Linked DNA regions of Homo sapiens: all the other regions are reported to be linked to region 2. The links are microRNA targets in miRTarBase. Many come from high-throughput screens and were not tested one by one. Region 2 holds a microRNA gene; each other region holds the end of a gene's coding sequence.
Evidence for each region. Region 2 holds the annotated microRNA hsa-miR-6785-5p (UGGGAGGGCGUGGAUGAUGGUG, at 1,778-1,799, opposite strand). A microRNA usually pairs through its seed, bases 2 to 8, with sites in the 3' UTR of a target mRNA and lowers its output. Matches are read on the target gene's strand: a 7mer-m8 pairs with bases 2 to 8, a 7mer-A1 pairs with bases 2 to 7 and ends in A, and an 8mer does both.

Region 1 (3,000 bases), not on the chromosome of region 2:
GCTAGTCTCAACCTCCTGGGCTCAAGCAATCCTCCTGCCTCAGCCTCCCAAAATGCTGGGATTACAGGCATGAGCCAACCACATTCAGCCTTAATTTGCTAATGTTTTGAACACATCACTTTCTGTACCTTCTTTCCATGTTGAGCTACATCAAAACTAGCTTTGATTTTCTAAATGACAAGACTGCTACCTCCCCTCATTCCAACCCTTGCCAAAACCCACTCTGTGTAGGGAAACCATTTCAGAGCTCACTGGTCAGATGAATATCCACCCACCAAAAGTTCTGAGAGTTCACCCACCTTTCTGCCTGTGTCAAATTTATTTGGGAAAAAAAACAGTGTCAGTTGAGATAAAAAGCCTATAGAAGAAATGTTTGTTGGTGTTGTGTGGGTGTGTCAGAGGATGAACACATGCATGTGTGTTTATGTACATGTATTACATATGCAGACACACACATACACACATACACACACACATATATAATAAATATATTCTGCCCAAATTAGCACAAACCCACAAGCTTAAAAACCAAATCTGCTAAATCTGACTCAAACAACAGGTACTGAGCCTACAGCTACTTCCTGCAAGCAGATGCATTACCTCTGTGACAAAGTCAGTTGTGAGTTGCAAAAAGGATAGGTAAATATCATTAAGATAAGTTAAGATTCTGCTTTCTAAAAAAATTTAAATGCAAAACATTACCTCAGGACACTGGCCACACTGTATGATTTCTGCATAATACCCAGCATATCCTAGACACTAAAGAATACTAAATTTACAACTTAAGCAGGAAAACAGAGGCTTGCTTCACAGTGGTTTAATATGAACAGAGTTGAATATGACATTGTCTGACAGAAGAATGAACAGTTTGCTGAATAAAAGCCCCGAGTCAGGATATATATACACAGCAGAAATGGGGCCTCAGACTCTCAGCACTTGTGCACAATGAAAGAGGAAATCGTTTTTAAAAAATGTCTATAACAGAGGATACAAATCAAAAAGGCAGCAACAACAACATTGGCGAGGTGGGAAAGGGAGCAGAGCCTCTCATTAGGGGCTGCTTAGCCCCTGGCGCAGGCTCAGCAGCTGGAGAGCTGTCTCAGGGAACTTCAACATTTAGATGGGTTCCAAATCCTATGTCAAAATACAATCCTAATCTCTCTGATCAGGGTCAGTCAGAATCAGCAATCCTTTTCCACAGTGCCCTGCATAGAAAACTCCAATCTTTCCATGATAGGGAGTCTAAGCAAAGAGCCCCCACCTCTCACCTGGCACCAAAGTTAACTTACTCTCACCCCACCACTTGGGACAGACGTTGGGCCCCAGCAAACAAACCACCCCCTCCAAGACAGAAACCAGGATAGTTGCCAGCCTCAAGAAGCTGCTTCAAATGTTAAGATTTAGGAAATCCATACCAAGCTGCTATCCATAGTTCAACTTCTGGGGAAAATGCTGGAGTTGCATGAGAAACAAGTGCAGGCAGTTCAATAACCCTGTGACCACGCTGGGGAGGGCAGCAAAAACTCTTGCCCCTGAGCCCCATTCAACAACTCAAAGTGCTTAGGAGAAGTCAGAGACTGTGTGGTTGGTTTGTGTGCTTCTGCCCTGTGGCAGCACTAAATGGGATGGGGGAAAGGAGAATGGAAGGAAGACAGTGTTGATGCCCTTCCCTACCGCGGGTAAGAGCCTAGAAGATAATCCACTCCCACCCTTCAGGGAGTTACCTGGCAGTGGTGAGTTGCCCCCACCCCTCAAGCCACCAAACCTGCAAAGCTAACCCATAAAGTAGCAAGGGCTTAGGGAGGGAGAACTGCTGGCCCATACTGACTCACCAGCTGATGAGCAAAAATAGGCAGCTAGAGTGGGAGCCACAAAGGGAGAGGGGCTAGGCAATAGGAGCTCCCCTACTGCCCTATGGCTTTCTTCTGACTCTGAAGCAGCCATAATGATGGGCCCAGAAAACCCACACACCCTGCTCCATACAACAGACTGCTTGGACTCTAGGAGGATTACTGCCATGGAAAGCAACAAGGGAGAGAGAAAGCAACAAAAGAAACTGTTAAGAAAACTGGGAGCAGGCCTGAAGAAAACAAGGAAAGCTTCTGAGTCTCTACCACCTTTCCAAAAAGGAAAAAATACATGCAGTTAGGAAAGGCAGGGTTTTTCCCTGCTCAGTGTTCTTGGTTAAACCTAAGAGTAAGAAAAATCCCCTGAACTTGCAGCATCAGTATGTATCCAAGTGCCTCACCAGCACAAGCGCCCCCCTCCCCCCAGGTTAGCCTTCTGGCATGGGTAAATGCCCAAGAAATTGCCTTCCAGTCTAATCCCCCCACCCACCCACCCCAACCCCAAGCAAAGGGCATCTGCCTGTGGGTTCCCACCTCTCCTCAGAGAAGAGGATCCTAGCAGAGTGCCCACATGGTGTAGTCAGGTACCAGGGAGCACAATGCCAGACAGTCTATCAGGCCAGGAGATGGGCAGCCAACTTCAGATCAAAGACAGAGAGAGGCTTAGTGTAAAAACCAATGTCATTTCAGCAGGAAAGTAGAGGGCAGGTGGTGAGAGGGGCTCCTACTGGCGCACCTTCCCCGGGACGTAGTTCCTGTCAATTGCCTCCTCTTGCAGGAACATGTGTAGGCAGCGTTCATTCTGAGCCAGTGGGTGCCCAGCAATTCTATAAAGAAACCAGGATGGTTATCAGTAGTATTCAGAATCAGAGAGAATTAGCAGAGGGATGGGGATGTGGACAGGGGAAGAAGGGCAAGGTCAGCCCTGAGGTTCAAGCCAGTAGAGGACAGCAGTAGGGTACCACCTCAACCCTAATATTGTAAAGGGGACGGGGGATAGAGGGGCAAGACAGGGAAATCCCTAGATATAACCAACATGCAGTGCTTTCTCAGGCCCTGACACACAGGATCAGAATCCTACTCAAAGGAATGGAGTTTTACTGTCCAGTCAGCCCACCACACAATTGGCACCACATCATGGTACCCATTATAA
Region 2 (3,121 bases):
GGAGAGCCTGACCCCATTGGCCCAGGCCCTGGCTCTGTAACCATTAACCTCTTCCCCCAACTAACACCAATGAAAACACCATTCCACGTGACTGGGCTGTGTGTTTGCCTCTGTGACATGGGGACCCCTGACCCTAGGGGTCTCGCCTGAGCCAGACCTGAGGGACCCACCCGCGTAGATGGAGGAAGGTTTAGGCCTCCCTTTGCCAGCCACCGCCGGGGGTGGGCAGACCCTGGAGTGGCCTTACAGACCAGCCACAGGTATTTCTTAGCAATTGACACATTTTAATACAAACCAGTCTACATTCATTCCTAAAAGGCTCATTTCCAGTAAAAAATATACACCAGTAGAAACTTCTCCCAGAACTGGGGCAGAGGCTGAGGAGACCTGGGCCAGATTCCCCAAGACTGACAGGCAGCCAGCTTGAGCCAGGCACAGGAAGAGGCTCCAGGGCGAAGCGGGGGCCCTGCTCCATCTTCAGGTTCAGGCGGGAGACTCCCCCACAGAGGGAGGGAGGGGAGGCACTCGGGGCCACATCCAGGCAAGCACCACCCCCCTGCCCTCCACGGCAGCCTTGGGAGTTGGACGCGTCGGCCAAGGCTGCTGCTGTTGCTCCTCCAAAGAAGGTTGGCTTCAAGGCCGTGTCCAGGGACCCACGAGCAGAGGCACTGGGGGGCAAGGGATCTCCAAGGGGGCAAGGGATCCCTAAAGGGGGTAGCTCACAGGTGAGGGGGTTTAGGGCCCCTCTAGGGAGCGCCTGAGGCCATACATTCAAGAGTGTCCCTGGTGAGGCCCAGGGAAGAGCCAGGACTGGCCAAGGGCCCAGGCCGTCAGCTCCTCCACAGTGAGCCCCAGGGCTCAGGAAGACAGCGGGGTCTGACACGGGGAGCTGGGTTTCCAGTGCCACGGGTGCAGGAGCAAACCTGGAAACATTCATGATACAAACTCCCCTGTTCAGAAATGGGTCTGGCTTTAGCCCCAGGGACGGGGGCAACTACAGCCACCACAGCCAGTGGCTCAGAAGGGAGAGTTCATGCCCAGCTTAGTTTCAAACTGCAGCTTCTGTCGCTTCTGGTAGCGGACTCGGACCCTGGTGGGGCAGGAGATTAAAGTACAGGTTGGCAAAGATCCTTAGACCAGGGGCCGGGGCAGGACACCAGAGGAGGAGGGAGGGATGGGCAGCGGAAAGGTGGGGGAGTGTCGCCAAGGGAGTAACAGGTTTAGGGAACATGCCTGAGCCCAGAGGGAGGCGCCCTGCTGACAGCTCACCGAATCTCATGTAGCTTCACGATCTCATTGGTCACCACCACAAGGACCAGGGACAGGCAGCCCAGGAGCCATGTCAGCAGGGGCACGTCCTCCAGGCCAAAGTGGACGTGGCTGTCCCTGTGTGTCCACAGCTGCAGGTCCACAGCCGTCTGGACCACCTGACCCAGCAGCCTGCAGGAGGTGGCGGCCCCGTGTGAACCCGACACTGCTTGCTTCCTTCCCTGCTCTTCCCAGTACAACAGTTAGCTCAGGCAGGGTACAGTTAAACCACTGGCCCCGGTCCCGCCCTCCGATCCTAGCCCTGCAGAAGGCCCTCTCCTCCCCAGCCCACACTCCGCCCTCCATCCTAGCAATACTCACACCACAGGCACTGTCACGGCCCACCAGAGGTTGGTCAAGGGGCTCTTTCTCCACAGGGGCTTGGTGCGATGCACATGGGTGATGGAAATGAAGACTGGGGAAGGTGGGGCGATGTGGGGGTCAGACTTCCACAGTGGGGCTCCTCTCCCACCATCATCCACGCCCTCCCAGGGAGCCCTCTCACCAGTGTGCAGGACAATCAGGGCGGCCGTGAGCTTCTGAGCCGACAGCAGTCCATTGGCAAAGTCCTCAAACCAGGCTGGAGCCCTGTCGTCGTTGCTGCCAAAGTGAGGCATGGGCTCAGCCCCTCTAGGGCCGCAGGGAGGTAGGCTGGGGTGGGGAGGGAGGAAGCCTCGAGGCGAGGCAGGCGATGGGTGGATCTCTGGGGCTGGGACCCACCTGGGCAGCATGACGGAGGAGCAGTTGGTGAGGTTGCGGTCCCGGGAGCTGTCACAGAAGCTCTGCAGTGTGAAGCCAAAGCAGATGAGGCAGGAGCTGATGGTGAGGCTGAACTTGAGCAGGAAGCAGAGCAGGAAGTAGTGCTGGGTCTGCGGGAACAAGGCCAGTCACTCCTGGGGCGCACAGCCCCTCTGCCGGCTGCTCCTAGCTCTTCCACGTATTCAACGGGCTCTTAGTAAATGGTCAGGCCTGGGGGGATAGGGAGCTCAAGCCCCAGCAAGGGTCTTTCCCAGCTCTGTGCCACTACCTCCTCTTTGATCTGGGGGAAGACTAGGAACCAAGTGCCGGAGTTCTGCTGGAATCCCCCATCCAGAGCCTTCCAGATTAGCCCCTCTCTCCTCCCCCAATCCTCAGTCCCTTCCATGCTCACTTGCAAGGCTCACAGGGTCTGTTTTGCTTACCTTCTTGGGAATGGACTGGAGGTTTTTCCCCGTTGCCATAGACATGATGGAGCTATGGGGGGGCTTCCCCAGCAGAGAGATGCTGAAAAGCAGAGATCAGGTAGAGGGATGGTGACAATGACCCTCTGTCCCTCAATTCTCATAGAGGGAACCTCTAGGGAGTCTTGCGCGTGAGGTCGAGTCTGGTGAGGGGATGGAATAAAACAAAGGCTGGACGGCAGTGGCTCACACCTGTAATCCCAGCACTTTGGGAGGCTGAGATGGGCAGATCATTTGAGGTCAGGAGTTCAAAACCAGCCTCGCCAACATGGCAAAAACCCATCTCTACTAAAAATACAAAAATTAGCCAGGCATGATAGTGGGTGCCTGTAATCCCAGCTACTCAGGGGGCTGAGGCAGGAGAATCACTTGAGCCCGGGAGGCGGAGGTTGCAATGAGCAGAGATTGCACCATTGCACTCCAGCCTGGGTGACAGAGCGAGACTCCATCTCAAAAAAAAAAAAAAAAAAAAAAAAAAAGACAAAGGGGGTTCCCTCCATGCCTCCTGTACCAGAGGAGGTGAGACCTGAGCAGTTCCAGAACCTTGGGCTCCTGGGGCTGCACAGTGACATCCAGACACCTCCTGCTTAGGC
Region 3 (3,121 bases), not on the chromosome of region 2:
ATGCAAAGGCTTATTCGGGGAACTCTGTATGTAAGTTGGCAAAGACCAAAATAGTGCCAACATATGAAGCACTGAAAAAGAAAAAGTTAAAATATCTTAGCCTCAACACTCGAAATATAGCAAGCCCACATATTTGAAGACCAAACACATCAAGACTCATCTTTCCCTTAAAAGAATTTTCAGCTGGGCACAGTGGCTCGTGCCTGTAATCCCAGCACTTTGGGAGGCTGAGGCGGGTGGATTACTTTAGACCAGGAGTTTGGGACCAGCCTGGCCAAAATGTGAAACCCCCGTCTCTACTAAAAATATAAAAATTAGCCGAGACTGGTGGTGCACACCTGTAGTCCCAGCTATTCAGGAGACTGAGACAAGACTCGCTTGAACCCAGGAGGTGGAGGCTGCAGTGAGCCAACATTGCACCACTGCACTCCAGCCTAGACAACAGAGTGAGACTTTGTCACAAAAAAAAAAAAGAGAGAATTTTTCTTTGTCAGATGTAGAATATAACTTAAGAGAAATTTATTAACATTTAAGCTCCTTAGTATAGAAAACTGGAGGAAAATAACTTTAGTACACACTTAATTTGCTATACTAAATTTTTTTAATAAAGACCTTCAAAAGGAAAATTTAGATTATAAGTAGCATGGCACATATAGAATATGAACACAGAAAGTTCATATCTAAGCCCTAAGCCACTTATGATAAACACCTATAAAAGGAACAAAAACTAAACTTCCACATTATTTTACCCAGTAAAAGATGTAGGCTATTAGTAGAAAGTTGGTTAAGTAAATTCAAAAAATAAAAATATAAAAAAGAAATAATGAGAAAATTTTTGAAAAATATTAATAAAATAAAGATGTAGGCTACATAGCTGAGGCTATTATTCACACCATATAGAAATTAGGTTCTCGGGCCAAGCAGAAACTATAACATAATCAGAAAGAATACCTAAAGAAATAAAGTATGACTTCCTAAATTTTTTATTTTAAAAATGCCCAGTTTATTTATTTGCTTTGCCTAAGATAGCTGCATTCATTATTACAGGGTCAGGGGACTTGTAAAAACAAATATCAATTATTATAAATAATCACAGAAAACAAATAAACTGGAAAATAAACAGCGGTTACTAATTTAAGGTTTTAACCCTTACCCCAACCACCCAAAAAAAGTAGCCATTTTTAAAATAAAGATTAAGAGTTGGTGGAATTTAAGGGAAATGCCATCCGGTAATGTTACCTAAATACTAGAAAGGAATCAGCACAAGGAAACAGGAACAAAGCAGTGCAGTACTTCGGTATTACAGCGCCACCCACTGGCTAGAAGTCCTCATAGCACATATGAGATGTAGCCATAAAATAGATGAATTCTTGAAATAAGGAATATAACACTGACTATTCTGATTCAGTAGAACATAAAAAATGTCTAACAAAACAGAACCAGACACATTATATTATTTCTACAAGTAAACAGAATATCTATTAGATATGTTCACAAGGGTTTTATCAATTTTGAAATCCAAGTGTATAATCCCCAAATGCTGTAAGGACTTAAATTTTATAGCCAAAACAATTAACACATAAAATGCTATTTCATCTCTGTAGCTGAATACATAAATAGTATCTTTAAGTAAAAGATGCATACTTGCATTTCATTGCTAAGCAATTCATAATATATTTAAATGCTGGTAAAACCTACAATGGCATCTGCTTCACTTCTACCTTTACTAGAGAAGTAACAAAATACACTGAGCAAAGGATATGTCCAAAAAACTAAACTGAAAAACAGTTTCTAAATAAAGTCCACAGACCATTCAGATAAACTAGTAAAAATAGTTTTTCTTTAAAGTACCACAGCACCTTTGTAGTTCAAAATATATTTACCATAGGCTGGGCGTGGTGGCTCACGCCTGTAATCCCAGCACTTTGGGAAGCTGAGGCAGGCAGATCACAAGGTCAGGAGATCGAGACCATCCTGTGAATGGTGAAACCCTGTCTCTACTAAAAATATAAAAAAAATTAGCCCGGCATGGTGGCGGGCACCTGTAGTCCCAGCTACTCAGGAGGCTGAGGCAGGAGAATGGTGTGAACCCAGGAGGCAGAGCTTGCAGTGAGCCGAGATTGCACCACTGCACTCCAGCCTGGGCGACAGAGCAAGACTCTGTCTCAAAAAAAAAAAAAAAAAAAAAAAAAAAAATATATATATATATATATATATATATATATATATATATCGTAATATATCTCTTTATTATCCTAGTGACATCTGTTGTGATTTTCCAAATCACTATTTATTTTCTTAAATACCAACATTCTTAAAATCTTGGCATGAAATATTTGAGAGTTACTTCTCCTGAAGTACAATCTTTCCTTTAAGACCCAGAATTACATATAGGGCATGACATTAATTTATAGTCTATATGACCCTCTTGAATGTTGTTCTCTAAAGGCTGGACTTCAGAATTCCTCTACAGACATGACCCCAGTCTTCCAAGTGAGAATTCACAAATATGCTCCAGGCAGTCAGGACAGGCTTCAAGTTTCTTTGGTTTGATGATAATTATCACTTGGCCTGCAAAAGCCAAGGTCTTTGCTTGCTCATAGATGGTTGATTGCAGATAAAAATATGATGAGAAAAGTAACATTCCCACAGACATAAATTGCCAACACTGCCTTTTTAAAAGCATGACCCTGAAAGAAAAATTGAGATATGAAAAAAAAAAGTATTACCATTAAGGTTTGTGTCAATGAACAAGAAAAGGACTTACCTCTGTTTCCACTGCAGTAAATGACTGAAGGATCTGAATTCTGTCATCATCCAATATTTCAACTGTCAAGAATAATAACATAAGTTTTTAAGGGCAGCGTTATGCAGGTAAATTAAATTTTTTAAAAAAACCTGATTTGTACTGTTCACCCCAATTTCCAGGGTAGAAATTCTCCCACTCCAAACTACTAATTATTGCAGACTTCCTGAACAATTAAGCCTCTCACAAATGTGGACAATCTGGCAAGAGCACACATTTGTTAAATAACTTAAAATATGCCTTCTTCTAGTCATTAAACACCACCTCAAAGTCATAACGATCTAAGCTCTTTGGTTTTATTTTTGATTGACAAAA
Region 4 (3,121 bases), not on the chromosome of region 2:
TATCCTTCCTTTCTATATGACTTTGAGTTTCTCTTGTGTTGAAGAATTTAAACACCAAATTTCTAATTCCAGCTCATTTTATTTTTATTAAAGTGCTTCAGTAGATGAACAGTGTTATCAACAATCAACACAAACTTTACTGAAATATTCACAAATAAAAATCCTCTGTAAGTCACTAAAATGTTTTTCTATGTAGTAAAAGTAATCACCATTGGAGACTGGTGAATTTGAATTTATTCCTAACCACATACATGGTTTATATATTAACTTTATTATATCCTTCTTTGTTTTTGAGACGGAGTTTCGTTCTTGTTGCCCAGGATGGAGTGCAGTGGCATGATCTCGGCTCACTGCAACCCATACATGGGTTCTCAAATTGGAAGATTCAACCTGGTTACCTTAATATATGGGGCTGGCTGTCAATACCTGAAAGCTAGTCCCAGCAAGTCTGTGGAAAAAAATGATGTGATTGGAAACTAATCATTTATCCTTAGTGCTTCAGTTTCTCCATCTGCACTGAGAAGTAACCTTCCCTTAGAAAAGGGTTGTAAATAAATACAAAATGTTAAAGCTTAGCATACTTCTGTGCCTCAAAAAGCATTCACGTACATGCTTTTAAAAGGGCAATTTCTTTGTTCTTGACATAAATTGAATACTATCTGGCTTTATAATAAATTGATGGATGATTACTCTTTCCTTGAAAATTATCTTTTTACTCAAATCATATTAAAATCATACTAGCCTGACTGTAGATTAATTTACAGGAGTTGTGCTCAGTAAATTATTTTGATTGCAGTAAGGACTACTGTCCTACTTAGGTAAAATTTACAAATTATTTTAAAAAGTTTCATCCATTACTTAACATTCTCCAAGACCTATCCATAGAGACAGAAATCCTGGTACTTTAAAGCACAAAGAGGCAAAATCCAAAATTTACTTGTTAGATTTTGGTATAGCTCCTTTGGATACTGTCAAGTATTTTATTCATGTCCTTGAAATGATACTGTGGTTGACGAGGGGCAGAGTAAATAAGCAAATTTTGACTATATCACCCAGCATAAAGTGACCTGGTGCCATCATAAAAAATTCAGTAGTGCCTAAGTTGGGGGAGAGGGGCAACATGTATAGTAAAAAAGCTTGAAGAGGCTGGGCATGGTGGCTCACACCTGTAATCCCAGCACCCTGGGAGGTGGAGGCGGGCGGATCACCTGAGGTCAGGAGTTTGAGGTCAGCCTGGCTAACATGGTGAAACCCTGTTTCTACTAAAAATACAAAAAATTAGCCAGGCATGGTGGTGCGTGCCTGTAATCCCAGCTCCTTGGGAGGCTGAGGCAGGAGAATCGCTTGAACCCGGGAGGCGGAGGTTGCAGTGAGCCGAGATCGTGCCATTGCACTCCAGCTTGGGCAACAAGAGCGAAACTCTGTCTCAAAAAAAAAAAAAAAAAAAAAAAAAAAAAAAAAAGCATATGATCCTAACTAAATCAGAAACTTTTTTAAAAACCTTGTTTATCTTGAGAAGTATGTGATTCTGCTGTAAAAGAGAAATATAAAGAGGCTGGTATATCAACTCTCACATTTTCAATGAAATGTGCAATACTTTTAAGTAGAGACAGTATTGCTAAATCTCCACATGACACTTTGAAACTGCTAGCAATAAACGGGAAAAAAATCATTAATCAACACTGCAGAAAAAGAAAAATGGTAAGCTGTGATGCTTTTACTTTTCAATTAGAAAAATATATTGATCACGACCACAAGTGGACATACCATCTGAATAAATAAAGCCTCCTGTAGTTAACTTGTCATTTAAAAAATGAATTAGATGAAAAGGATAATTTTCTGCAGTATGCTCAGCCATTTGAAGACTGGAGTCATTTAAGAAAAACATGAAACATCCTTAGAGAGGACCTAATTATTTCATATTGGTTGTGGCTCTTTAAAAATGGCAGAGCATTCCATGCCCTATACAGAGTACACAAGGAAATAATTTTCACATTGAATATAGATCTCTTACAGAATGAGGAAAAAAACACTTTACACAACACACTTTTCGATAACATGCAGTATTGAGGGAATAGTAAATCATCATCCTTCACAAAGAAGGTGCAGGTGCTCTAAAATAATCTTAGAGCTAATGATTTCAGAAAGAGGCTTCCAAATTTGAAATTTAAAATGCAAACTTAATTTCAAAGTTGGTTTTTCCAAATCTCTGATAAGTCCTAGGAATCCAGTGTGAGCAAGAAGAAAACTTTCTCCCTATTTTATGACTTGTACCTCCCACTATCTGTGATGAATGCCATGGGTCAAATGCCATAACAAATTTCCTCTTTTAGAGCCAGCAAAGTCTAGCCTGGTTGTAGCCAAGACTAAAGCAGGAAAAGGTCCTACCAAAGAGCTTGTCTAGAATTGATCCACCAAAAGATTTCCAAGGCCAACTGGGCACCCAACTGACCCCAGGGCAAGTTGATCATTTTATTGTGATTCAGGATCCCACCCTTGCACCATCTTTAGGCCCAAGAGCCCCCAGAAGAGCCCTGAACTGGTAACAGCGCCTGTATGGACAGGGTAGGCAGAGCACAGTTTATTGGAGCTGACCTCTATCTATTGATGCTTGTTGACAAGAACTTAGTCAGTGATTCTGGAGCAGCTCCTCCCAACAGATGGGCTGTGAAAACACCTCTCTCTCGAGCCAGAGCTCATATGAATAGTGGAAATCTTCAGGCAGATCCAACCTCTGCCCCAGTACGCTCTGCAAGCAGTTATCCACAGGTGAAAACTCAGAGTCCTGGGGTCTGTCATAGCGACGGCTGTTAAAAGCCTCAATGTTGGCCCTCAAGGTACATTCTTCTGCTTGGAAGTCCCATGGTCTGGCATCGATGTCTGTGTTGGAAAGAGAGGAAGAAGAAGACATACAATGCAAGACACTGCTCCTCTTATCACAGAGCATGGTCTATGGGATTCCAAAAATGGAACTGCTCAGAAATTCTTTTTTTTTTTTTTTTTGTAAAGAGCAATGTATGAAGTTAGTATACAGCATGCTGACACTTAGGTTTAAAAAATACACATATGCCCACATGCATAAGCTTGTATATGCAGAAATTATCTTTGGAAGGGTAGTCTA

Region 1: the mRNA of SNX12 is a reported target of hsa-miR-6785-5p. Seed matches in the 3' UTR shown: 7mer-m8 at 1,800-1,806 and 7mer-m8 at 1,508-1,514.
Region 3: the mRNA of FRRS1 is a reported target of hsa-miR-6785-5p. Seed matches in the 3' UTR shown: 7mer-A1 at 221-227.
Region 4: the mRNA of STRIP2 is a reported target of hsa-miR-6785-5p. Seed matches in the 3' UTR shown: 7mer-A1 at 1,320-1,326 and 7mer-A1 at 1,184-1,190.

Annotation. Positions count from the first base shown.
Region 1 is chrX:71,058,445-71,061,444 of GRCh38, forward strand. SNX12 (sorting nexin 12) reads right to left here. Exons shown (of 4, transcript NM_013346.4): 4 at 803-2,674. The coding sequence ends at 2,572. Among named protein-coding and RNA genes, the nearest start is that of SNX12, 8.4 kb to the right of the region's middle.
Region 2 is chr17:75,497,231-75,500,351 of GRCh38, reverse strand. It overlaps MIR6785 (microRNA 6785), which reads right to left and starts at 1,804; the gene lies at 1,724-1,804. TMEM94 (transmembrane protein 94) reads right to left here. Exons shown (of 32, transcript NM_014738.6): 27 at 2,490-2,571; 28 at 2,029-2,177; 29 at 1,814-1,908; 30 at 1,630-1,723; 31 at 1,270-1,440; 32 at 1-1,090. The coding sequence ends at 1,018. CASKIN2 (CASK interacting protein 2) reads left to right here. Exons shown (of 20, transcript NM_020753.5): 20 at 1-91.
Region 3 is chr1:99,706,431-99,709,551 of GRCh38, forward strand. FRRS1 (ferric chelate reductase 1) reads right to left here. Exons shown (of 17, transcript NM_001361041.2): 16 at 2,768-2,829; 17 at 1-2,690. The coding sequence ends at 2,598. Among named protein-coding and RNA genes, the nearest start is that of FRRS1, 59 kb to the right of the region's middle.
Region 4 is chr7:129,485,338-129,488,458 of GRCh38, reverse strand. STRIP2 (striatin interacting protein 2) reads right to left here. Exons shown (of 21, transcript NM_020704.3): 21 at 60-2,880. The coding sequence ends at 2,630. Among named protein-coding and RNA genes, the nearest start is that of SMKR1, 16 kb to the left of the region's middle.